Linked DNA regions of Homo sapiens. The protein of the gene in region 5 purifies or fractionates together with the protein of the main gene of each other region. This does not show direct contact. Each region holds a gene or a part of one and is shown on either strand. Other genes may lie near its edges. The genes, in order: EXOC5, COG5, ANAPC2, EARS2, NPTN, RUFY2 and BTAF1.

Evidence for each region.
Region 1: the proteins of NPTN (region 5) and EXOC5 purify together in Homo sapiens (co-immunoprecipitation; 2 studies listed by BioGRID and IntAct, with this or other methods). This does not show direct contact.
Region 2: the proteins of NPTN (region 5) and COG5 purify together in Homo sapiens (co-immunoprecipitation; 2 studies listed by BioGRID and IntAct, with this or other methods). This does not show direct contact.
Region 3: the proteins of NPTN (region 5) and ANAPC2 purify together in Homo sapiens (co-immunoprecipitation; 2 studies listed by BioGRID and IntAct, with this or other methods). This does not show direct contact.
Region 4: the proteins of NPTN (region 5) and EARS2 purify together in Homo sapiens (co-immunoprecipitation; 2 studies listed by BioGRID and IntAct, with this or other methods). This does not show direct contact.
Region 6: the proteins of NPTN (region 5) and RUFY2 purify together in Homo sapiens (co-immunoprecipitation; 2 studies listed by BioGRID and IntAct, with this or other methods). This does not show direct contact.
Region 7: the proteins of NPTN (region 5) and BTAF1 purify together in Homo sapiens (co-immunoprecipitation; 2 studies listed by BioGRID and IntAct, with this or other methods). This does not show direct contact.

Annotation. Positions count from the first base shown.
Region 1 is NC_000014.9:57,258,906-57,262,405, forward strand, and holds part of EXOC5 (exocyst complex component 5), read right to left. Parts: intron 1-3,500. UniProt on the Homo sapiens protein: Component of the exocyst complex involved in the docking of exocytic vesicles with fusion sites on the plasma membrane.
Region 2 is NC_000007.14:107,235,421-107,238,920, forward strand, and holds part of COG5 (conserved oligomeric Golgi complex subunit 5), read right to left. Parts: intron 1,268-3,500; coding exon 1,030-1,267; intron 1-1,029.
Region 3 is NC_000009.12:137,174,284-137,178,560, forward strand, and holds the end of ANAPC2 (anaphase-promoting complex subunit 2), read right to left. Parts: intron 3,834-4,277; coding exon of another isoform or gene 3,785-3,833; intron 3,499-3,784; exon of another isoform or gene 1,555-3,498; coding exon 1,425-1,554; exon of another isoform or gene 1,233-1,424; coding exon of another isoform or gene 1,190-1,232; coding exon 954-1,189; exon of another isoform or gene 872-953; coding exon 659-871; 3' UTR 501-658; downstream 1-500. UniProt on the Homo sapiens protein: Together with the RING-H2 protein ANAPC11, constitutes the catalytic component of the anaphase promoting complex/cyclosome (APC/C), a cell cycle-regulated E3 ubiquitin ligase that controls progression through mitosis and the G1 phase of the cell cycle.
Region 4 is NC_000016.10:23,536,851-23,540,350, forward strand, and holds part of EARS2 (nondiscriminating glutamyl-tRNA synthetase EARS2, mitochondrial), read right to left. Parts: intron 1,326-3,500; exon of another isoform or gene 1,233-1,325; intron 705-1,232; exon of another isoform or gene 534-704; intron 383-533; exon of another isoform or gene 154-382; intron 1-153. UniProt on the Homo sapiens protein: Non-discriminating glutamyl-tRNA synthetase that catalyzes aminoacylation of both mitochondrial tRNA(Glu) and tRNA(Gln) and participates in RNA aminoacylation for mitochondrial protein translation.
Region 5 is NC_000015.10:73,567,390-73,570,889, forward strand, and holds part of NPTN (neuroplastin isoform b precursor), read right to left. Parts: intron 3,035-3,500; coding exon 2,761-3,034; intron 2,418-2,760; coding exon of another isoform or gene 2,401-2,417; exon of another isoform or gene 2,325-2,400; intron 2,155-2,324; exon of another isoform or gene 1-2,154. UniProt on the Homo sapiens protein: Probable homophilic and heterophilic cell adhesion molecule involved in long term potentiation at hippocampal excitatory synapses through activation of p38MAPK. May also regulate neurite outgrowth by activating the FGFR1 signaling pathway.
Region 6 is NC_000010.11:68,404,478-68,408,758, forward strand, and holds the start of RUFY2 (RUN and FYVE domain-containing protein 2), read right to left. Parts: upstream 2,801-4,281; 5' UTR 2,713-2,800; coding exon 2,709-2,712; exon of another isoform or gene 2,386-2,708; coding exon of another isoform or gene 2,277-2,385; exon of another isoform or gene 1,348-2,276; coding exon of another isoform or gene 1,344-1,347; intron 989-1,343; exon of another isoform or gene 968-988; intron 368-967; coding exon 194-367; intron 1-193.
Region 7 is NC_000010.11:91,930,270-91,933,769, reverse strand, and holds part of BTAF1 (TATA-binding protein-associated factor 172), read right to left. Parts: intron 2,389-3,500; exon of another isoform or gene 2,250-2,388; intron 1-2,249. UniProt on the Homo sapiens protein: Regulates transcription in association with TATA binding protein (TBP). Removes TBP from the TATA box in an ATP-dependent manner.

The DNA.
Region 1 (3,500 bases), on a different chromosome or scaffold from region 5:
TAAAGTAAGTCTCAGATCGTTTCAGAGAGATATTTCTGTATCTTGTTAAACCAACTAACCCATCGGTTCAAAAGTACTGCCTATCATGTATTTTCCTTAAATTTATTATGGATACCACTGTCTAACAAATCATTAAAACACTACCTCCTTTTAGTGAGAAACTTCCCTATATAATTCCTACTACACTATCAAATTCACACACACTTTTCTTTTTTTTTTTTTGAGATACAGTCTCACTCTGTCACCCAGTCTGCAATGCAGTGGTACAATCTCGGCTCCGCCTCCTGGGTTCAAGCAAGTCTCATGTCTCAGCCTCCTGAGTAGCTGGTATTACAAGTGTGCGCCATCACATCCGGCTAATTTTTATATTTTTAGTAGAGATGGGGTTTTGCCATGTTGGCCAGGCTAGTCTCTAACTGCTGGCCTCAAGTGATCTGCCCGCCTCAGTCTCTGGAAATGCTCGGATTACAGGTGTGAGTCACCACATGCAGCCAAGTTCACACTCTTATATCTACCCTTTAGGGTTCTTATCTTGTACCACCTACCCAAATTTCTCTGTACCTCAAAACAAACAGCCACACTTCCGTCAGACTATTCCAGTCTTCTTTTCAAGCCCATGCTACTCCTGCTTCCTAACCTGTGGCCAGGTAACTCACCCCACCAAGTATGGCCTTTCTCCTCCAACAATTCAAACACTGCTATACCATTATTCAAAGCCTGGCTCTATTCCCGTTTCTTCTTTGAAGGGTTCCTTCCTTACATGGTCTCCATTAATTTCTCCACTCTTAAACCCCTATGAAGCTTAAAAATTCAAATCCCAACACAGAACATTACTAATTGTCATTTTGTCATTTATTGATTTAGAATCATTTTCATAAGTTTCACTCTTTTCTCCATACTTAAATTGAAAGCAAGGGGATGCTGTGTCATACATTTCTCTTGCTTTCCAGCTGTAGTCAACAGAACAATGCCGAGCATACCAAAACACTAGCTAGTTGGGGCCATGGCTGAAACCCCTGCAGAGGGTCTTGAAAGTCATGCTCTTGATCCATACATCCAAAACCAAAAAGGCAGGACCACCACCCCACAACCCAGAAATAAAGAACAGGCATTACATGGTACTATCAATCAAAGATTCTAACAGAAACCAAATATGAGCCTAATACAATTCTGGCACTACAAAGAACTAAAAGAATTTTATAATATTCGGCCTCTACTTTCTAACCCCATTTTCTTTGATTTTTCAGTGAGATTCTTTACGTGTTTTCTGTATATTAATAAATAAGTTATATTTATTGAATACTGAGTTTTTAAAAAAGCACCACAAAATATTTTGTCTCAGGCTAGCAAAATGGATTTCAAAGGTAGTATGAAAAGGTAGAAAAATAAAGCTCATTAAGACACTAATATAACTAAAGCAAACTTTGAAAAAGTATTTTGAAAACTACTTGCACAAACACTACAAAATAAATAATTTTACTTTTTAAAATTAGTCAATGTTAACATTCAATCTTGAAGCCCTTTAAACTATGAAATTAGCCAATTAATCATGTTATCAAAATTGTTTTGAAGACTATTTAAACGATGGTAGTTTAGAATCTTACAAAATATTTTAGATTCTCTTAAGCAAAATATTTTTCCAGGATAGAATATATCTCATTTCGAACAGTAAAGTTATATATATTATGTCTATGTCCAAAAGGGAAAGGTAACAAATGTTACAATTCCTGTTACACTAGTCTCAGCAGAATCATATAATTAGATTTAAAATTCGTAATGCAAGAATGTTCTTTAAATATCATCACAGCCCAGCTCTTTCATCTCATTTTTATAAATAAAGAAACTGAGGAAATGAAATTTAAGTCTTATCAAGGTACTAAACCAGGATTCTAACCCAGATATTTTTCCCACTCTATTATAGTGCCTTTAACATTTATAGACTGTGAAATTACTTTAAATATTTAATAAAATCTGCCATTAGCATTTCAAATCAAATTAAGTGTATTGCCAAATACACACGTTAAATATTCTTACAGGCATTTAATAGACACCTTGGAAATGAAATTAAACAAGTGAAAGAATCATTTGCTTCTTTCGTTTATTATAACTTGAATAAGCAAAGATATGTAAATAACTATATTTTCTCATTTTCAAATTTCGGCTTCAAGGAAGTAACATCAGAAAAGTTTGCTAAGTTTTAAAAATATATATATACATAAACTATTGACAATCAAACTTTTAAATTATTTATCACTCAACTAGAACTTTCGTTTAATTTGTAGGTTATGTTTATTTGCACGGTGTTACATGAAATTGCAATCCACTTTTAAGAGAACAAGGCAATCAATCACTCTTTCAAATCTCTCTCACACATGTGGGCACACACACACCTCAACTATCTAATTTCCTGGGAACACCAGGGACTCAGTATTTTAGATTAATTACACACATGTGCAGTCTATAATACTGTCCTCAATTTAATGACTTGCTTATTCCAAAAGTTCACTTCCAAGTTGCTTGGACTGGAGAACTCCAAAGCATAAAATACTTAAATGGAACTCTATTACTCTTAAGCATCAACCTCTACCTCTACCACTGTCTCCACTAAGACCAGCAGAAGGCTATTAGATCTTGGTGCAGGTAAGAAATTGATCGGCCTCTGTTACAGTTATCTATTGCTGCCTAACAACCACTCAAATAGTTAGTGGCCTAAAATAACAATAATCATACTGTTCACAAATCTGATTGGAGGAGGGCTCAGCAGGGAAACCTGGTCTCTGCTCCACATGAAATAAGCTGGGGCTGCTCAACTTGGCTAGAAGATAGTCTTCCAAGATGGCAAGTTGGTGTTTACTGTTAGCTGGGAGTTCAGCCAGAGCCAAGGGCAAAGGGCCTTGGTTCTTTCAAAGGGCTGCATGGGCTTTCTCTTGGCATGGCTGCTAGAGTCCAAGAGGTTACCTAACCTTGCAAATCACTACATAGCATCACTTCTATAGTCATAGGCCTGTACAGATTCAAGAAGTGAACACAGAACCTACTTCCTATGGGAGGGGCATAAACATCACAATGTAGGATGGCAGATCTTGTGACCATCCTGAAAAATACAACCTTCCACAGCCCCTTTTTGTAATCCTCTCCTACTATAATCTCCTACTTCTTGGATCATTTACTCTGAGTCAACTGAGACTGAGAAGGCTGAAGTGTTCCCTCCCTGATAGATCTCTAATCTAGTTCTCATCTCAATCCACTTAAATTGAAAGTGGCCAACACCTAATTTTTTAAAATGGATACTACTCTCTTAATAGTATGCTTCTAAGCAATTTAAATTTCTCAACTCAATTTAGTCATCAAAAAAACCTTCTGAAGTAGATACCATTATTTCCCCCATTTTACAGATGAGAAAACTGAGGTACAAAGAGGTTGGGTAACTTGCCAAGATCACACAACTAGTAAGAGGCAGAGCTGAGAGATGTCTTCCACCTCCTGGCTAAATTACCACC
Region 2 (3,500 bases), on a different chromosome or scaffold from region 5:
CCAGCCAGGTGTGGTGGCTCACGCCTGTAATCCCAACACTTTGGGAGGCCAAGGCGGGTGGATCACAAGGTCAGGAGTTTGAGACCAGCTTGGCCAATACGGTTAAACCCTGTCTGTACTAAAAATACAAAAATTATCCAGGCGTGGTGGCGCGTGCCTGTAGTTCCAGCTACTCGGGAAGCTGAGGCAGAGGAATCACTTGAACCCAGGAGGTGGAGGTTGCAGTGAGCTGAGATTGTGCCACTGCACTCCAACCTGGGCGACAGAGCAAGACTCTGTCTCAAAAAGAAAAAGATTTTACCCTTGGTATGCTATACAAAAATAACAATCATCTTTGTTTCTGAATCTTTTAATGAAAGCATGTTTGGGGTTTTTCTTCATTGCCTACTGAAAGGCTTTAAAAAATCTGTCTAAAGGACAAAGAAAACGCTTTCTATAAGAGCTGATAATGTTTTGCTATTTTAATGTCATTCTATCTCTCACACACATCAGATAGCCTGAAATGATTTCAAGGCTAGCCACAGAGAAGAACTGTACTCTACCTGATAGAGAGAGAACAAATAATCAGACTCTATGTCTACCTGGCCCACTGTGCATTTAAAGGAATGGGAACACTGCCTCGGAATGGTGACATGGCAACAAGCGGTCTCTTTTCACTGTTTGAAATATGATTTCATTGCCTACATTATTGGTCAGCAAGGTTTGACCTATTGGGACAGTAAAATAGTGAGAAAATCCCATATGAAATAAAAATGGGAAGTGCTGCTTTCCTGTGGAATGAGCTATTTCACCTTAACCTTGAAATACCAAAGAGAGGGATAATTATTTTGTTAAATACAAAGAAAAATATATCTGGTATAAAAGTATCTTTAAACTCTCCCTTTTTTTTTTTAACTATTTATGCTTAAGTGGGCTTACTTTTCTTTGTGCTGCAACTCTTTAAAAACACCGATGAAAACACATTCTTTCATTTAATAGATGATATTGAGGCCAAAACATTTTTTCTTTTGTAGTAATTCATCAATGTACCTGTGCAAAATCAGCAGCAAGTCGCATTTTCCCACCTTCACCAAGAGGTCTTATGAGACTGGCATGGCGGATAAAAAGTTCAACAGCTCTTTGGGCAATAGCCTCAGTGTTGTCAAAGACAAAATCCAAGCATTCAAAGTGTTTAAAATAGTCACTCATAACTCTGGCAATGAAACCTTGTAGCTCCTTCATGTACAGAGAACAAGGAACATCAGGTTTTCCTGAGCTGGATAATGACCTGTAAAAGAAAAAGCAGCCCTTTTCAGCACCGCTGCACTAAATCACACTCTTTGATTTTGTACCCCTCTCCCCACCAATGCTGCTATTTCAATCCTTTGTAATGTTTTCCCTTAATGGTATAAAAGACATTAATTACTTTTTGATAAGCGTTAGCAGAAAACAATGTTTAAAAATTACATTTCAAAAAGTGGTTTAGATGCCAGGAGGATTACTGAAGGAATTTTAGAATCCATTTACCTAAAGATTATTAAGAATGAAATAGACAACCATCTGTCTTGGATGAATCATACAAGTGCTACTCTCTGGCCTCTCAAGGTCCCTCCCAGCCTCTCAATTCTCCATCCACTCACATGTTTTGCCTGCTAACTGAATGCATCAATAATGGATCCTGAAATAGCATTTTATGCTTTGCAATGACAGAAAATGCTGCTTTCCCTATACAAATTCTTGGCAAAGATCTCTCTGCTCTTGTGCTATTTAATCAGATCAGTCCAACAGAATTCTGACTGTGGAAATGGTTATGTAACAGTACACATGGCATGCAGTTTTTTCCTCTAGATGATGAGGTTTGGAAAGGCTTTAATTTGGATCAACAAATGATACCAGCTGATGCTCCATGAAATACTATTTATAATTTATAAATGTTTATAATTGCTCTTTAAAGAATATATTAAAAGAATGTGAAATATTTATAGGAAAGAGATATACCAAAACTAGCTAACACCTGATATTTTCTAATAAATGAGATCACTGGCTACATCATGCTGAATCTTTTTCAAAAAGCAAGTTAAGTGTTTCCATATTCTGAGAATGACGTAGAGAAATTGGTGATGGTCTATAGAAGAACAACAGATATGACTAAAATGCTTAGAGCAAGAGAATGAGTTGAACTTAATTATCTTCAAATACAGCAGTGGTTACTATAAATAGGATGCTAACCAGAGGTCCGTCACTTTCAGAAGCAGATAGAGATAGAAGAAGTAGGCCTATGTTCCAGCAGGAAGGGATTTCATACAGGTATAAGACTGTGCCAACAACAGCAAGGCTGCTGAAGGGTGTATGGTGCAACATTTTTGTTTGCAGTATCATCACATGATGGAGTGGCGCTTGGGTACAGGGGAGCCTTAGTAAATGACGGCCATCTTCATGTGGGGTTTGGTTTTCCCAGATTCAGACAACTGCATAGCCTAGCTTTACTCTAGGTTTGTCACTCCACAAGGCCAGGCTGCAAAAACAAACAAATAAAAGAAGCCTCCCTATCCGAAAATGGTGCCAATCTATTTCATTTTTTTAATGTTTATTTTTGATGAATTATAATAATATATAATAAGGGGATACACAGTAATGTTATATGTATACAGTGTGGAATGACTGAATCAAGGTAATCATACTCATCACCTTAAATACTTATCATTTATTCCTCCTAACTGCAACTTTGTACCCTTTGACCAACATCTCTCTATTCCCTCCACCCCATAGCTGCTAACTGCCATTCTACTCTCTGTTTCTATGTATTCGGTTGTTTTAGACAACAGATATGTGAGGTCATGTGGTATTTGTCTTTTGGTGTCTGGCTTACTTCACTTAGCATAATGTTCTGTAGGTTCATCTATTTGTTGCAATTAACAGAATTCCTGTCTTTCTGAAGGCTGGATGGTATTCCATTGTGTATGTATACCACATTTTCTTTATCCATTTATCAATCTAAATGTTGGTGGACATTTAGATTGATTCCATAACTTGGCCATTGTAAGTAATGCTGCAATGAACATGGAAGTGCGTATATCTTTTGACATACTGATTTCAAGTTCTTAGGTTATGTATCCAGAAGTGGGACTGCTGGATCATGTGGTAGTTCTGTTTTTAGTTTTTTGAGAAACGTCCTTACAGTTTTCCATAATGGCTGCCTAATTTACATTCCAACCACAGTATACAAGGGTTCCCTTTTCTGTACATCGTCTTTCACACTCGGTATCTTTCATCTTTTTGATAAGTCAATTCTGACAGGTGTGAGGTGCAATCTCATTGTGGTTTTAATTTGCATTCCCCTGATGATTAGTGATGTTGAATGTTTTTTCACATATCTACTGGCCATTTGTATGTCTTCTTTTGAGAAATGTCTGTTCAGGTCCTTTGCCTATGTTTAAATCAGGTTGTTTTCTTGTTATTGATTTGAGTTCCTTATATATTTTGGACGTTAATCCCCGTATCAGATGTATGGCTTGTAAGTA
Region 3 (4,277 bases), on a different chromosome or scaffold from region 5:
TGCCCAGTCCCTCTGGCCACCAGGGCACAGCCTTCGGCAGAGCCTCACTGCCAGAGACGAGGCGTGTTGGCCTAGAGGTCATTCGCCAGCCTCAGCAATTCCAACCGAACCCGCACAACGTCCCAACCTCGCCCGAGACCTCCTGGCCGAGCGTGTGGAGGTGGGCACAGGCTGAGCAGAGGGTGACCCCAGGGCTCCTTCTAAAGGCCAGAGGCGCAGGAATGGAGCTGGAGGTCTGGCGGGTAGCAAGCACTAAGCCCTAGGACGTGGCTGCCTGAGCCGTGGCCCGGGCGTGACGTGGACCTTCACGTGCCGCTCCCTGAGCACCCTGGGTCGGGGGCGGCCCGGGATTCTCTCAGGAGGCTACATTCCCAGTGCAGATGTGTAGGCCTAGGTGGCCCCTCACCTGCTGCTGAGGAGCAGGCCCTGCCAGGCTGAGAGAGAGGCCCAGGCTAGAGGAGGATCCTGGGGGGCCCCACAAAGCCACCAGGACAGAAAAGGATGATCTGACTTGCTTTAATCTGCACACTGCGGGGGTGGGGGTGGGCATGCTCCTCAGCAGTGCATTCTGGGACACGGGCGGGCGGGGGCTGGCACGGGAGGACGAGAGCACCTGCAGGGCAGCGCCTGGCGGGCGGGCGGGCGGGCGGGCGATGTGTCAGCTGCAGTTCTTGGGCAGGCGGTAGACGCCGGCCGAGTAGACGAGCTGCTGGTCCCGCACCTTCTTCTGCAGGTAGCCCTGCAGCTCCTGCAGGTCAATCTCGGCCAGTGCAGGCCCAGTCACCACAAACATGCGGAGCATGTTGTAGATACGATCCAGTGAGAGGCTCTCCAGGTTGGTCAGCATGGCCTGGATGTACGTCCAGAAGAGCTGCGGACACAGGCCAGCCCCCGTCAGGCACCTGCAGGCCTCGCCCCCGCCCCCTGGCCCCCCGTGGGGCCTGCACGCGCACCAGCAGCTCCTCCTCCTTCTGGTCGGCCTGGGAGGCCATGCCGGAGTCGCTCTCGTCGTCACTGTCAATGAGCACCATGTTGTCCCGGTCCTGAGGCCGCTCCTCCTCAATGACAGAGAAGGTGCCGGGGGGCTCCTCACGCAGCACACCCTGCTGCAGCCACACGGACATCCGCCGCCGCAGCAGCGCCACGGGCATCTTCACCGCCTTGCTCAGTTCCTCCAGGGTCCAGCTGGCTGCGTGCAGAGTCACCGGGACGCTGGGCAGCCTGGGCACGGGCTGCACCTCCCCTGCCTCCCGTCAGCCGAGAGGTCGGGGGGCTCCCGGGCCACCCTGCCTTGCCCGTGGGAAAGGGAAGGGTGCCGCCTGCTGGCGCAGCTGCCCCAAACCACACCCTCACTGGGGAACAGCCCCTCACCCACAGCTGGGCCGTGTGGCCGGGGCAGGCCAGCTAGGGGCTGGTGGGCTCACCTTGGTCCTGAAAATACAGCAAGATCACCGCCTGTACTGGGGTGACCGCCACAGACAGCGTGCGGTCGGCCAGCTCCACGTCCATGGTCACCAGGCCCAGGGTGTGCTTCCAACTGAGGGTCCGCATGGCCTAAGGAGGGCCAGGGTCAGCACGGGCAGCTCGGCTGCAGGGCGCTCAGGCCCGTGGGCTCTGCCACCTGGTACCAGTGAGAAAGGGGCTCCCAGAGCCACCTGCCCCACCCCACCCTGGCAGGCAGGTGAGCAGCGAGAGCACAGGACTGGGTGGGGTCCCCACCTGCTCAGCCACCATGGAAGGGCAATGGGGCCAGCATCATAAGGTGTGTCCCGAAAAGGCTACAGGGGCCTCCTGACCCCCAGTGCTTGGAAATGTGGCCATATTTGCAAACAGGGTTGATGCAGATGTAACTGAGGTGCATCCTAACCCAACTGACTGGGGTCCTTCTAAGAAAAGGAAAGATAGGAAGACACAGGCAGGCGGGGAGGGGGCCACACGAAGACAGAGACCACCTGGAGCAACGCGGCCACAAGCCAAGAAACACCAAGGGCTGTGGCAAACACCAGAAGCTGGGGGGCAACGGAGGTCTCTAAGAGGGTTCAGAGGGAACGGGGCTGCCAGTACTTTCATCTTGGACTTCCAGCCTCCAAAACTAAGACAATCTATTTCTGTTTTTTAAGCCACCCAGTTTGTGACACTTTGTTACAGCAGCCACAGTAAACGAACAGATTTTGGTACCAGGAAGGGCCAGGAGGGGTGCTGCCAAAACCTAACACCAAGAACTGTGGCAGCAGCTTTGGAAGTGGGTGATGGGGAGAGGCTGGAAGAACTGGTGAGGCCTGCACGACTGCTGGTAGAAAGGCATGAAGACAAGCCTGGAAATGGCTGGAAGAGGAGAGCTGCCGCCGTCTTGGAGAATGCACACAGCATCACAGACTGGATGTCGGCAGCAATGCCGACCCAACAGGTGCTTCCAGTGAGGTCTCAGATGGAAATGACCGTGCTACTGGGAACCGGAGGAGGCAGCAGAGAGCTTGGCTGGCTGCTGCTCTGCTGTTGGGTGCGAAGTGGGACCTGCAGCTGATGAGCCTGGACATCAAGCTGAGATTTCCAAGCAGTGTGGAAGGTGCCACCTGGCTTCTCCTTGCTACTTATAGCAGAATGCAAGAGGGAAACAATCAGTGAGGCAGGGACCATTAAGCAAAAAGGCACCAGCCCTTGGGGATCTGAAAAATACTCTATCCAGGCAGCTCTGAGACGTGGCCAAGGGTGTGGCTGGACCAGGGTTTGCTAGACATGAGGTGTGACCTGTGTATCCAACTAACCATCTCAGCAGCAGACAGGGACAGGTGGGGCCTCCGGGAAAGGGCTGCGGACCCGCCTGTCTGAAGGCTTCGGCACTGGTGAGCTGCATAAGCCAACAAGGTGTGAGAATTTTACACCCGCAGAAGTGCTGCCAGGCTGGAGTGAAAGGAAGGCAGGCTCCAAGAGCAGAGCCGCCGAGGCCAAGGCTGACGGAGCAGGGGGCCAAAGAGGATTCGCAGGCCTGGAAGTCAAGTGGAATTTCGGCTGCTGGGTTTGGACTCGCTGTCCTTTTTCCTCCCAGTTTTCCCTTTTGGGGTGGGAATGTGTATGCTTGTCTTACGGCTGAACTTTTGAAACAGATCATCTGTTGGCTGATTTCACGGCGTCCCAGCTGGAGGAATGGCGCGCACTCCAGCCTCACCTGTACCTTGTTTAGATCTATTTACGTAGAGGAATGGCGCACACTCCAGCCTCACCTGGACCTCGTTAAGATGCATTTACAGGCTGAGATGTGTGTGGAACTTTGTGTGGATGGTAGTTAGATGAGATTTTGGACTTGGAGTTGATGCTGAAATGGTGAAGACTTTTGGGGACACTGGGGCTGTCACTTGCACGTGGGAGGGGCCCACCATGGGGCAAATTGTCATGCACTGAATTGTGCCCCTCGAAAAATGACACATGAACCCCTAACTCCCGGTGCCTCTGATGAGATCTTATTTGGAAATACGGTCATTAAAGATATAATTAAGATGACGTCACCCTGGAATAGAGAGAGTGTTCTTCTAAGAGGGAGATAGGAACAGAGACACGGGGGAACATCACGGGCGACGCGGCAGAGACCAGAGCGAGGCACCCACAGGCCCCGGAGCTCCTGGAGCCCCCAGAAGCTGGAAGAGGGGAGGAAGCAGCCTCCCCTAGAGCCTTCGGAGGGCCCTGCTGACCCTGACTTTAGACTTCTGACTTCTGTAAAATGATATGTTTCTTTTAAGCCCGCTGGTTTGTGGTACTTTGTTCTGGTAGCACTGGGGCACTGACACACCTGCTCTGTGGGCCAAGGGCTCCTGAGTCCTTCCAGGATCCGGCAGCTTCTAATGGAAACAAACCCCTCTTTATGGACAGAAAATGGAAGTGGAGTCAGTGGCTTGCTAGGTCCTAGTTCTGGCTCCAAGGCCATGACCTCCACAAACGCCGCCACTGGTCAGCCTGCCGCAGGACACATGCAAGGGCTCAGGGGTGACGCTGTGGGCTGCATGGCCAGCCACGTGTCCAACAAGGTCGCTCGGCCAGGAGCTCTGCTGGTGGGACCTCTCAGCACAGCCCCGGGGCCTCCCTGAGCCACTCCTGTGTCCCACTGAAGTTAAGACAAAGGGCACTAGAGTGTGGCTGTCCCAGCACATCAGGCCTGAGCAACAGGAAGTGGCTGAGTCATGCCTGGGACCCAAGGCAGGACCCTGGAGGGAGGCCATTGGGGCCTTGCCTGGAAGCAACGCTGGAGAGCCTGAGGCAGCCAGAGGGGCAGGGGGAAAGGGACC
Region 4 (3,500 bases), on a different chromosome or scaffold from region 5:
TTTTATATTTTTAGTAGAAATGGGGTTTCACCACGTTGGTCAGGCTGGTCTCGAACTCCTGATCTCGTGATCTACCCGCCTCGGCCTCCCATAGTGCTGGGATTACAGGTGTGAGCCACCGTGCCCGGCCAAAAAAGAAATTTTTACAAATGAGTCAGTTGCACATGAGTGAACAGGAGGGTGTTCAGCTGCAGAAGCAGGGCAGCATTATGTCTGAATCAAAGGAACTTGTTTCTTCAAGCTCTTCTGGCAGGAATTCTGACAGTGAGTTTGACAAAAAGTTAAAGAAGAAAAAGTAAGTTGCTCCAGAAAAACTTGTAAAGGAACAAAAGACTGGCAAAACTTTGGGAGCTCTGTCATCTTCCAAACAGAGCAGCGGCAGTAAACATAATAACATGTTTATTTTCTTTTTTAAATTTCATATAGAGATGGGGTTTCACCATGTTGCCCAGGCTGGTCTCGAACTCCTAGTCTCAAGTGATCCACCCTCCTCAGCCTCCCAAAGTGCTGTGATTAGATTACAGGCCACTGTACTCAGCTGATAACATGTTTCAGATTGGGAAAATGAGGTACCTTAGTGTTTGGGATGTTAAAGGGGAAGTGCTAATTGATGGTATTAGAGATTATTGGATGGATCTCAAAGGTTAAATAAAACCAGGAAGAAAAGGTATTTCTTTAAATCCACAGCAATGGGGCCAGCTGAAGAAACATTCATTCATTCATTCATTTACTGAGACAGGGGACAAGGTCTCACTCTCGTTGATCAGGCTGGAATGCAGTGGTGCAATCATGGCTCACTGCAGTCTTGACTTCCTGGGCTCATGTGATTCTCTCATCTCAGCCTCCCGAGCAGCTAGGACTACAGGTATGCACGACTATACCCAGCTAATTTTTTGTATTTTTAGTAGAGACAGGGTTTCTTTCTTTTCTTTTCTTTTTCTTTCTTTTTTTTTTTTTTTGAGTCAGGGTCTCACTCTGTCACCCAGGCTGGAGTACAGTAGAGTGATCACAGCTCACTGCAGCCTAGACATTCCCAAGGGTAAAGTGATTCTCCCACCTCAGCCTCCCAAGTAGCTGGGACTACAGGCGTGCACCACCATGCCTGGCTAATTTTTGTATTTTTTTTAGTAGAAATGGGGGCTCACCATGTTGCGAAGGCTGGGCTCTAGCAATCTGCCCACCTTGGCCTCCCAAAGTGCTGGGATTACAGGCATGAGCCACCGCACCTAGCTGGAACAGATATTCTAATCGATACATTGATGATGCAGTAAGAAAACTGTAAAGTCTGAGCCATACAAAACCTACACTATCCTAGTTGGGTTTTTTTGTTTTTTGTTTTGAGATGGAGTCTCGCTCTGTCACCCAGGCTGGAGTGCAGCGGCGTGATCTTGGCTCACTGTAGCCTCTGCCTCCCAGGCTCCCAAGTAGCTGGGATTACAGGTGCACGCCACCATGCCCAGCTAATTTCAGCAGAGATGGGGTTTCACCACGTTGGCCAAGCTGGTCTCGAATTCCTGACCTCAGGTGATCTGCCTACCTCAGCCTCCCAAAGTGCTGGGATTACAGGCGTGAGCCACCGTGCCTGGCTTCTAGTTGTATTAATCTGTCTTTTTACATTGGCTTCTGTTTTCTAAATGTTGTTCTCCAAGCTGTCATATGTTTGGATTACAGAACAACTTGTAAGATGAATACTTGTTTTAAATGTGCATTATTGAATATGTTCTGTCCAAGTGCGGTGGCTCACTCCTGTAATCCCAGCATTTCGGGAGGACAAGGCAGGAGAACTGCTTGAGCCCAGGAGTTCAAAACCAACCTGGGTAACGAGACCTTGTCTCTACTAGAAATTTAAGAAAAAAAAAGAATTAGCCGGGCATGGTGGGTACATGTGTGTAGTTCCACCCACTTGGGAGACTGAAGCAGGATTGCTTGAGCCCAGGAAGTCAAGGCTGTGGTGAGTCATGATTGCATCGCTCCAGCCTGGGTGACACAGCAAGACCCTGTCTGGAAAAAAAAGTCCTAAGGGAAGCTAACTGTCAGCTTTATTAAGAAGGATTGCTTTGTACCTACCACCTAATGTAAAATAAAACCAAGTAATACATTCTCAACAGTTATGGCCCCCCTCCTTTTTTTTTTTTTTTTTTTTTTGAGACAGGGTCTCATTCTGTCTCCCAGGCTGGAGTGCAGTGGCACAATCTCAGCTCACTGCAACCTCCATCTCCCTAGTTCAGCTGATTCTCCTGCCTCAGCCTCCTAAGTAGCTGAGATTATGGGCACACACCACCAAGCCCAGCTAATTTTTGTACTTTAATATAGATAGGGTTTCACCACGTTGCCCAGGCTGCAGTTGTGTCCTTTTTTTGCTCATAAGAGCTAGTACTGTTTAAGGCCCAAAGTAATAGTTTTTACAGATCTTTTAGTTTCAACTAAGCTTTTACAATAGAAAGGACTTGTATTGCATTGAGTTTATAAACTTTTGGTTTGTGAAATCCATACTTGATCTGTTCTTTTCCAACCAAATGTCTAGGCTTGACTTTTCCACCCCAATGACATTTCACTTTATTAAATATTAGCAGATATACTTTGATAACCAACACAGCTTGTATGAAAACTGAGCAAGTGTCCATCATGACCCATAGGGTTCTGGGTAGTTGTTACCTTACTGTTTAGTCCACAAAAAATAACGACTTAGATAAGCTGTCTGATTTGCTTTCGCTTATTAAACACGTTCACCATGAGATGATGTGTGTAACATCAGATACCGTTAAATTAGACTAGGATTTAATACAAATCCTGAAAGCTTAAAATAAATAAATAAATAAATGGCTGCAAGGATTCCACAACAGGGCATGACTATAATTTAACAAAAAAAAAAAATCTGTTGGCCAGGCATGGTGGCTCATGCCTATAATCCCAGCACTTTGGGAAGCTGAGGTGGGAAGATCGCTTGAGTTTCATACCAGCCTGGGCAAAATAGGGGAATTCCATCTCTACAAAAATTTAAAAACTAGCTGTGTGCCAGCCGGGCATGATGGCTCACACCTATAATCCCAGCACTTTGGGAGGCTGAGGTGGGTGGATCTCCTATGCTCAGGAGTTTGAGACCAGCCTAGGCAACACGGAGAAACCCCGTCTCTACCAAAAAATACAAAAAAAATTTGCCGGGCATGGCGGCACACACCTGTGGTTCCAGCTGTTTGGGAGGCTGAGATGAGAGGACTGCTTGAGCCCAGGAGGCAGAAGTTGCCTTGAGCCAATATCACACCACTGCACTCCAATCTGGGTGACAGAGTGAGACCCCATCTCAAAACAAAACAAAACATAACACTCTGTGTGTGGTGGTACATGGCTGTGGTCACAGCTACTTGAGAGGCTGAGGATGTAGGATTGCTTGAACCCAGGAGATTCAAGGCTGCAATGAGCTGTGATCATGCTACTGCACTCCAGCCTGGGTCACAGAATGAGATGAGAAAAAAAATATTCTGTCAAGAGACAAATACATT
Region 5 (3,500 bases):
GGTAAACACTTATGACCTCTTAACACTCCCAAGTTTGTGTCAAATATAATGTACCTCTTCGTTTATTCCAAAAGGAGTGTACGTATATATCTATATGAAAATTTGGGGAGAAGCACATGGGAAGGAAGCAGACAGGTAAGTTTGTCCTTCCTATGGAGTGCACAGGGGTTGAGGGGAACTGGCTAAAGAAGGAAAAGGCAGAGAAGAAGGAAACTCACCAAAGAACATTCAACTTTTTCTTTTGTTTAATGATTACTTCCAGGAAAGGAGAAGAAAAGCGGGCAGGGGTGGAAGCAGGATGGAGTTTGAGAGAAAGACAGAAAGAGACAGAGGAGAAAAACAGAATGGAAATACTGGAGCAAGGGCAGGGTGTGAAGATGGAGAGTGGAGCCTGGCCCACACTGGCTGTCAGGAAGGGAAGGAGAGAAGGCAAACATTGCCATCATTCCAGCATCTCAGATTTTTCACCCCAATGCAACAACAACGAAGTAAACGCTGCTTTCATTACAATACTCTCCCAAGAGACTAGAGCAAGGAGGTTTTACTTTGCACTTACCCTGCCGTCATCTCTTTTAAGGGTAGGATTCATTCACTGTCTATAATAACTTAGTTTAAAAGAGGTACTTTCCCTCTAGGAAGCTGTTCAGATTTGCTGGCCACAGATGTCTCCTATAACAAACTGGTCCCCCATTTGATTTCAGTAACCAAGAAAACTCTTACAAAAAAAGAGCTGCTTCCCTGGGCAGGTGTCTGCACTTATCCAACAGAACAATCCTAACCATTTCTCAAATCTAACCTACCACATGCACTGTGATAGCAACCTCATAAGCGCGGTGACTTCTTAGGGCAAAGACTAGACCTCTGCTGGGAACACGCTAGGCTGCTGCATCACTCTCACCAGTGGCAGCCAGCCTTGCCTTAAAATTTAAAAATCAGGTTCTGAAGTCCATCTCTGCCTTCTCTTACCTGACTTTTTAGCTTCTCAACCTTTCCAAAAGGCAGGCTGAGGAAGGTGGTATTGGCAAAGCAAAAGCATTCTGGGGGGATAAAAAGGCCCTTTTCAGGAATGAGGCATAACTGATCCCACAGAGCCAAAGCTGAAAACACACGAAAGACAGGCAACTCTTTCCCTTTACTCCCAGGTCTAAATAAAGGTGCACTCTTGCCTTGGGAGTCCTAATATGTAGCAGGAAAGAAATACCTGGAGAGAAAAAGCATTAGGAGTACATGAAATCCCAAAGAAAGCAGGTTCACTTCATAAAGTAGGAAAGTAAAACTCATGGGGACACTCCCAGGTTGCAGGAAACTAGAGATTCATTTGCAGAGGCCGTCTGCTCCCAGCCAACGTCCTTCCCACGCCTCTGCCCAGCTCACTGCTGAGTGCACATCTGGAGGGAGTCACCAGATATTGTCAGTGTCATCAACAAACCTCCTCACCAGCCACTCACTCTACTTACTGCAGGCAGAGAGATTTATAACTGCTGAGAAGAAAGGAAAAGATGGGGAAGGGGCTGTTGCTCTCAAACATGTCCTCCCAGAGAGTCTAAAGCCACTGGCATGCCTCTGGGGCCACATTCTTTCTGAGGGAGCACCAGATGTCACTTTGTATTCTCCACTGGACAGCCAGCTCTGTGGGGCAGGATACAGCACCACAGGTGCACAAACACAGGCCCCAGAACAGCTGGACTACAGCTGGCAACCCCACCATCACCCCGGGTAGGCTACCACTGAGCCCAGGGGCACACCCATCTGTCTAGTCTAGCCAGGGACAGACTAGTGGTGGTAACAGTCGGCCAATTAATTTCTGTACGCCGGTCATGTTATAGGGTGGGGATGGGGAGCCAGCTGGGAACCTGAAGTACTGCAGATACAAGTCTCCATCAGCAGCTTCCCCCTTCACAGGAAAAATCGATCACCAAAAATTTCCCAAGGCTTTTCTGACTCTAGGCATATCCAATAACCTAAGATTTCAGCTCTTGCTCTTTCCAGTGCTCAGTGGTGTGCTGTGGTTCTGCTGCTACCATCTCCTCCCTTCTCTGACCCTAGGCCAGCTTGAGGGCACAGCCTCGGGGCATGGACTCCATTTGTTCCGCCTTTGCTATCTCTGTCTTACACTAGATGGGTGGATACATCAGACTCTCCTTTGTCTGTGAGACACAGATGGAAAGCCACCCAGCAGAGAGCGCTGGAAACCTATCAAAGGGACCAACCAAGGAACCAAAAGCTGGCTTGTTCCAATGGCTTTTCTGAGAACAGTCTGACTGGGCTGGGGCAGTTACCTACAGGGGCTACACCAGGCAACCATGTGACAACCAGTTAGATACCTTAAATCTGCCTGAAAGGCCAGGTGGCCTGCCATCTTGGGGTGGCTTCTAGGCTTGACTTGGATTCTCCTCAAGCTCAATCTGCCTGATGATCTGTATTGAAGGAGGACAGAGCTGAACAAAGAGACTGACAGCTGCCCATTCACCACATGGGGCCTGAAAGGCAGATGGGACTAGGGTTTGGAAAACACCCAAACAGAGGGAGAGAGCTAAGGACAGCTCTAGATGGCTAATGCAAAAAAAATAAAAATAAAATAAAAATAAAAAATAAAAATAAAAAACTCTTACGGGTAGGGGGTTAGGAACTGGTATAAGAATTTTCCTTCTTTCCTTTAGGGATTGAATCCCAACATCCCTATAGTCCTCTTTGGGTACTTGGAAACCACCCGAAGGAACCAACCCCAGCAGTACAGCTATTTTGTAGGGATGCTCTTACCGTCAGGAACCTCATCTGGCCTCTTCCTCTTCTCATACACAACAATGATCACCACAAGGATGATAATTTCAGCCAGAATTCCCAAGAAAGGCCAGAGTGGGGCCAGGTGGCTCCGCACCCTGAGGACAGTGACAACAGAGGCGGAGCCAATGGCGTTGGTGGCATTACATTCATACTCGCCAGGGTCTTCCGTGATCTGCAGGTTCACAATGTTCAACTCAGTGTAATTTTCCTTGTTGATGATGAAGAAGCGGCCAGAGGTATTGACAATGTCCTGCAAAAAAGTGAGAATACACAAAGGTGAGAGTGAGTAACTGAGCTAATGTTCAAGAGAGGGTGACACTGCTCTCCGTTCTTTTTAGGCACCAGCCAGAATGAGGAAGCAGTGTCTAGGAACATTTCATTAATGATTTCCCTTCAGTATCAACAACAACAAATCAACTTCTGACAGAGCCAGGCAAGCCTCCCTTACCATCGGTCCTCCAGACTTCCCCGACTTCCACGAAGTGAGTGCAGGTCCTACTGCCTGGAGACTCAGAAAAGTCCAACAACCTAGTAAATGCTGCCTCCAACACCAGGTAAGAAACCACAGCAGAAAGAGGACGGCAGAAGGAGGGGTACAACCCCTACAGTCAGGCATGCCTCGGGGACCTCAGGCCTCTCTGATGACCTCAGAGTCAGCACACTGACTTCACACTTGGTGAGTTCTGAGGAAGTCTCCTTAAACTTCCTCCACAAAC
Region 6 (4,281 bases), on a different chromosome or scaffold from region 5:
GCATTTTCTGAAGACCATTTATTATTCCATTATTAGAAAACATAGTCATAAGATATTTTCTCCCAAAATCAATCCACTCAATATTTTTTAGTGCACAGTAACGTAATTATGGCCTCAAAAAATAACCCATTCTCAAGGGCACTTGAAAAACGGAAATTCTAAAATGAATTAATTTTTTAAAATCTCATGATACCTTTAAGACCGTGTTTCAGGCAATGTTCCATAACAACAAAGAATTGCTGCAAGGGGGGATAGTCAGAATCCAAAGTGCGGCCAAAGCTCAGAGCAGATTCAATGAGTCCTTTGATACTCAGTTTAGCCATGTTTAACAAGTTTGCTCTCTCTACAGCTGTGGGGTCTTTTGTAGCTGAAAACACAAGAAAGGAATCCAACATCATTTGTAAGACATGACAATGAAAAATATACAAACCATTCCCTTCCCCTATAAAAACCAACAGTAGTTTGCTGTTCCTTGGTTGACAAATTCTCCCCAGCTAAACCACACCCTTGATTAACTTCTCTTTACATCTCTCACATATACTGTAAAAAATTTCCGGCCAGGCGCGGTGGCTCACGCCTGTAATCCCAGCACTTTGGGAGGCCAAGGCGGGTGGATCATGAGGTCAAGAGATTGAGACCATCCTGGCCAACATGGTGAAACCCCGTCTCTACTAAAAATACAAAAATTAGCTGGGCATGGTGGTGCGCGGCTGTAGTCCCAGCTACTCGGGAGGCTGAAGCAGGAGAGTCACTTGAACCCAGGAGGCGGAGATTGCAGTGAGCTGAGATAGCGCCACTGCACTCCAATCTGGTGACAGAGCGAATCTCCGTCTCACAAAAAAAAAAAAAAGAAAAAGAAAGAAAGAAAGAAAAAAGAAAATTTCCATGACCACTCCAGCCAAAGTTAATGAATTATTCTCAAGATCCTGCAAATCTGCCATTCTCCTGTATTTAACTTTCCTGGTACCTCTTCATAGAGAATGAGTTTTTTAAAATGATCTTCTATGGAGATAAATTTGGGGTGAGAGACAACAGGTTTAAGGGCCTCATGCAAAAGGTAGATAGCAGGTACGGTCTTAGGATGAATTCCAAGGCAAAAATGTTCAGAATAAACTGGCAATAAAATAAAAGGTAGTTAAAATTCTAGGATTCCAGTGTCATCCACAACAAACATGACAGGTAAAATACACTGACAAGGGGACACAGAAGAAGCCGTCCAATTCTTTCGTCTACCCTCTTTCTGTCTGGCTTCTTCATTCTGACTGTAGTTCTGTATTGCATGACTGTTTTATTTTCAAAGAGAAAATAAAAGCAGAGACCAGTTTTACATTAATGTTCCTCACCCATCCACACAGTTGAGGATGCCCACAGCGCCAGTCTGAATACCAAGTTAATAGATGCAAATTCTAAAAGGCCTGATTTTTAATTGATATTTTTAAGACACAGTATCATCAAGTAAGATATTTTCAATTCACAAAAATATTGTCCTCCTTCCCGCAAATTTTATTCTCAGTTTACTTAGAAATTCAGACGCTTCCCCATCATCTCATCACTGTTGTGACTGGTGGGAATACCTTCAACAAACACAGATGACAAAACTAAGGTGTGGAAAAACGAAGCACTTAGTATAACATTTCATAATCTCTGACAAATTTACAAGTAATCAATGTGCCCGTTTTTCCTTCACTGAACAACAACAACAACAAAAAACCCAGAGTCTCCAATGATCTAGTATTCCAGCTCCGATTTCTAGATAGCTAGGCATGAAGCCTGACACTGAATCCTAAGCAACCTAAAATGCAAACAGCCACAACTGCTATGGCCAAACTGCCTGGTGGAAAAATGTCCACACACGAATTCCTTCAAATCTGCATCGTGGTCTGACTCCCACTATTTTTCGGGAGTGAAACCACTTCATGTTTCATAATCCGTGGCAACTCTCATTTTTAACACAGCCCATCATAATTCCTAACGTGCGATGCGACAACCACACAAAGGGTGTTTTGCAGCTGCTGGGAGGCAGATCGGTGCTGGGCACCGGCAGTTCCCACGCCGAGGGGCGTTCACACCGCGGCCACGCCCCGGCTGCGCTACAGGACTTCTCCGGCCCGTACGCGACCCCCAAACCCGGCCGCAGGCGCGCAAGGAGTACCAGGGCCAGTGCCCGCACCTTGCCGGGGCCTAGAGCCCCTTCCCTGCCTCTCTTCCTGCCCCCTCCCCCCAGCAAGGCTGCCCAGAGGCCTGGGGGCCCCCCAGGACCATCGCGGCGGGCTCACCCAGGCTCCTGCGCGTCAGCATTCCCCGTCTCCCGCCCTCGGCGTCAGGCACCCAGGCCAAAACCTGAGATGCGTCTTCCCTCCGCCACCCCCAAACCTGAAAAGTCATCGCCCCTCCCCGCCTGCTCCCCGACCCGGGAGTGACACCCTGCCTGGCCCTGTCCTCGCTCCTGGACGCCGTGGCACCTCGAGCCCTCGGCCACTATGCCTCAGAACCCGGGCGGGAACGGGCCGGAACAAGGGAGGGGGCGCGTTGCCATGACGACCCCGGGAGCCCCCGAGTCCCAGGCAGTCCCCGCCCATCCTGGGTTCGGGCCCCAGTTCCGACTGGCGGCCTCGGCGTCTCCCCCAGCTCCCAGTCCACCCCGCCTGGCCGCGGCCCTCAGCCCGGGACTGAGGGCCTAGCGTTCGGTTTCGGCCCGCTCGCCTTACCCATGGCGGCGGCGGCTGCGCGGTCTCGGGCGGAGGCTCCCTCGGCCTGTCCAGCAGCTCCTTCCAGGCGCTCGGCGGCCACCACCGCATCTGCAGCCAGGCCCGCTGCAGCCCACAGCGCCCCCGGCGGCGGGAGGGCGCCCGGGCGGCCCCAGGGGGAGCGGCGCCCCGGGCGGGGCGGGGACCCGCGGACCCTGCGGCGGGCGGGAGAGAAGCCCGCCGTCTCTAAGCCTCCTCGCATCCGCTGGGACCGCGAGGAGAAGGAAAGGAACGTGAAGGAGACCACATGTGTGAGGAGCCAGAGTGCTGGGCCCTCGGTCCCGTGTCCCGGGGGCTTCGCTGGAGCGCGAAGGCCGGATTTCAAGGGGCGGCCGGCCACACGCAAACGTTGCTTCCACCGGGCTGGTGGGGCCTGATCTAACACGCCTGACTACTGCCCATTCACCTTCACAAACACAAAGGGGACCAAAAGAATTTAGAAAATCTGAAGCAATTAACAGTAGGCAGAAACCTAATAAAACTAGTTAGTCCCAAATTACGACTTTTTTTTGTTTTTTGGGTTGTTTTTTTTTTTTTTTTTTTGAGATGGAGTCTCGCTCTGTCACCAGGCTGGAGTGCAGTGGCGTGATCTTGGCTCACTGCAAACTCTGCCTCCCGGGTTCAAGGGATTCTCCTGCCTCAGCCTCCTGAGTAGCTGGGATGACAGGCGCGCGCCACCCCGCCCGGCTAATTTTTGTATTTTTAGTAAAGACGGGGTTTCACCATGTTGGCCAGGGTGGTCTCGATCTCTTCACCTGGTGATCCGCCCATCTCGACCTCCCAAAGTGCTAGGATAACGCCTGAGCCACACAGCCCGCCCTAAAACAATTTGGTAAAGCTCATTACAAAAAGCTAAAGTGAAAAAAGAGAGAAAACAATTCAAAAATATTTCATTATGTGCCACAGCAATATCCACACAAGCACTAAAATTCAGACCTCGGCTGGGTATGGTGGCTCATGCCTGTAATCCCAGCACTTTGAGAGGCTGAGCTGGATAGATCACGAGGTCAGGAGTTCGAGACCAGCCTGACCAACATGGTGAAACTCCGTCTCTACTAAAAATACAAAATTTAGGCAGACGTAGTGGCATGTTCCTGTAGTCCCAGCTACTCGGGAGGCCAAGGCGGGCGGATCACCCGGTCAGAAGTTCGAGACCAGTCTGGCTAACATGGTGAAACCTCATATCTACTAAAAATACAAAAATTAGCCGGGCGTGGTGGCGCGTGCCTGTAATCCCAAGATTCCGTCTCAAAAAAAAAAAAAAAAAAGTCAGACTTCATCCCTGGATCCATCTTGGTTCACATTTCCCAGGATTATGAGCCCTAGTCATCGTAAGGGCCAGTAGTGACTCAAGTGGAATTAGATAGGCATATCCTATTAGCTAGAAGAGATTTTTTATTTTTTTCAGACAGGGTCTCACTCTGTCACTCATGCTGGAGTGCAGTGGCGCGATCTCAGCTCACTGCAACCTCTGCCTCCCAGGCTCAAGTGATCCTCCCACCTCAGCCTCCCTAGTAGCTGGGACCACAGGCGC
Region 7 (3,500 bases), on a different chromosome or scaffold from region 5:
GAACAAGTGTTTAAAATATTATTTCCTCATCATACACAATTTAATCCATATAAATCAAGGTTCCATCTTTCTACACCAAAATACCACACCTGAAGGTCACCAATGAACTCTTAGGCTCCAAATCCAATAGTTTTTTACAAGGTCAATTTTTCTTGACTCTTCTTTGACAGCTGCGACCAGCAAGCACCCCATTCTTACAATACTTTCCTTCCTAAGTTGCACATTATATTACCCTGTTCTCCAAACTCTTCTTTCCTTAGTTCTCCTATTCTTAATACTCTTAATATGAATATCGGGAGAATACTCATATTCAATCCTTGACTGCTCAACTCTCATCAGTTTCTCCCTGAGGAAACTGTATACTGTTATTTGTTTAAATTATATCCAGAACAAATATTCCCCAAATCCAGGCCATCTGAGAGTGCCAGTTTCACACTCCCAACTGCCTTGTCATCCTGTTGCCAGATTAACTTCCTAAAACGCCCCCGAATAAATCACTACCTTACTTTAAAACTTTCAATGGCTCACACTTACCTACCAGAAAGTAATCCAAAACAAAAAGTATCTCCCAAATGTGGGTATTTTTGGTTTCCACAATTTTACCTATACTGTTTCCTCCACTCAGAATGTCTCTCACACCCCTTCAAGCTAGGGTTACAGTGGCTCACCCCTCCTCAAGGGGGTGGTTTCCTGGCCAGTTTCTGCCAGATCCCCAGAATGGTCACTGGTTGGGGTTGCAGTGGGTATGTACTCTGCCTCACTGCAACAGCAGGCAGCTGTGCAGATATAATGGCCCCATGTGTGAGACTGGGAACTGTTGGTGGGAGGCACAGCTGAGAATATGGGTATATCACCTGGAATTTAACCAGATACACCACTAGAGGTGATCTTCGGGTGTGCCTGAGCTTGCTTCTCTAACAAGAGAATAAAATGTGCTACAGCAAACAAATAAAGTATTTTTCTCTTTGTTCAACTGTTCAGCTAGCTCCCATCCAACAGGATTCAGCTGAAGTTCTTCACCTTCTTGAAACCATTTCAAACTACTATGCAACAGAGATTACTTCCTTTTCTGAAATCCACATGAATTCTCATCTTGAACAGCTACTTAAGTATTTATTATATTTTTTTGTGGCATCTCTCACATTAATTTGTCACATGAGGTCTAATTTTCCTCATTAGGCTTCATCTCCTTCAATCATTCTTTTTGTCTCGCACAACACTTTGCACAGTATTCAAATATTTGTTATGTAGTTGACATTTACTGTAACTAAAACTATACTTAAGGAAAAGTTCAAGTTTCTTGGGGACAAGTTTAAGAACCAACTTTAAGGAAAGAAAAAATATTTTATATTACCTTTTTTTTTCCTGCTTCCTTTGAGAAACATCCTTAATCTGTGACAGCAGTTTTACATAAAAAATCAGTTGGTAATGTAATGTTTCAGTAACTGAAAAGATCAGCACAGCAGTACTTCAGCCTTCTGAATGAGGCAGTTACGCTTGTCCCAAATAGCAAGCTGAAAAATGCCATGCAATAGGCACTGTATTCCTTCAATAATTTCCATCCTTCTTAAACTTTTCCTTTGGTCCTCTGCTACCCAGCTTCACTTAGAACTCCTGCCCAAAGACCTTAGACTCCTCTCTAACCTAATTGCTGATACTGTCCCACAGACACACAGTTCCTCTTGATTCTCCTTTTTGCAGATCCTTTTATCCCAATGCTATGTCAGGTCACCTCTGCTCTCCCACCAGCCAAATGCCCTGAGGGTAGCAGATCAGCTCATTCTCTCATCCATTCCAAGCCTGTTTATCCTTACTTCTTCCACTTTGGATGGTAACCAAAATTGCCTCCCTGAATAGAGGAATGGAGACACAAGAATGCTTCTTTGATTCTCTTGATTTAAAGCCACTTTCGTAGTTCTCCATTCCTCTCTTCAGGACAGCAGATTGGACACCACATAAAAGGAAGAACAAAGAGATGAGCAGACAAAGATCTGACAAGAGGGCAGTCTGACCTGTTATCTCAGGATAGCCAGCTATGAGGCAAGCAGGGTAAGCATCAGGGCCAGGCCACGGTGGAAAAGGCTGGTACAGTGAACTTGTGGGGAAGAGGAAAAGAACGTGAGACAGAGTCAGTATTATGTTGGAGGGTAGACAGGGCCCTTGGTGAGGGAGAGGTCTGAAGGAAGCTAGATGGTCAGAAGAGAAGGGAAAGTTAAAAGGAGGGCTGACTGAGGGAACACAGTACTTACTCCCATACTACTTTTGGCTAAAACTTCTGTTGCACACAGCTAGCAGGAAAAAGTAACATTCTTCATTCTCTGAAGGATAGACAGACAGATGGAGGAGACACAGGTAACAGATGTCAAGTTGCATGGAAGGTACCAAAGACTATAGAAGATAAGTAAAACATAAGAAAATTATATTTTGTAATATCCACTGGTTATAAATTTATTGAGAATAAGAAATCTGGCCCATTTTCAATCTGGATGTCAATTCCGAGAATTAGCTAAACAAGATATGATTCATGTAACCTGTGATTTCAGGCAACTGTTCTAAAGACTGCCTAGAAAAAGGAAAGAGTACATAGTAGTAGAGGTTATGCTAGCAGTTGCAATCTAACCCCTCTCCTCTCCAGATGTTTGCATTATGTTAATTCATAACAGTAAAGCCATAAAAATAAACAGAAAGAAATGTCATGCATTTTAAACAATAAAACATGTCCTAGATTACTACGTCATAGTTAATAAACAAATACATACTGTATTTCCACTCTAAAACATCTCGGGAGGGGAGGGGCAAAAAGCCTCACTGATATTTTCAAAATATATTTAACCTCTCTGATAAATTAGGAAAGGTCAACTGACAGAATACCTCAAAAAGACAGCTTTGTGGCCTTAACTAAAAAAGCATGACCAGTCAAGAGTAGCCATTTAGTTATACATTTTTTACACGTGGCAAAAGTACAGTAAAATTTTAAATATAGATGATTTGAATGTTTACTTTTCTGTGTTACTCAGGAAGTAAGGAAAGATAATGACCATTACTTAGTATAGTGTACAGTGTGTACTTAATACGTGGAACTTAGTACAGTGCACATATTATCATTAAGGTCAAAAGAAACAACTTCCAACAAATTCTCTAGTGTTTTTAAACATATACTTTCTAGGTCATGTTGTGGGTAATTTGAAACTATGTTAATGTTATGTTGTTTTAAACATAAAGATATCACACAGAACACTAAGAATCAATATGAAGGTGTGAAACCATACCAAAGCCAGGTGTAAGGGCAGGTGCTTGCTAGATAAGTTACCCCACTCTACCCTGGACCATAAACTCCATGAGAATGGAGAGTACAGTTTTTTTCTCTGCTATACCTCTAGCACCTATAACATAGAAAGCACTCAGTAAATATTGGTTAAATGAAGAATGGTGAAAATGTACAACCAAGCTATGCTATTTCCTTCAAGACATTTTTTTCTACCCTCCATCCCTGATCGAAC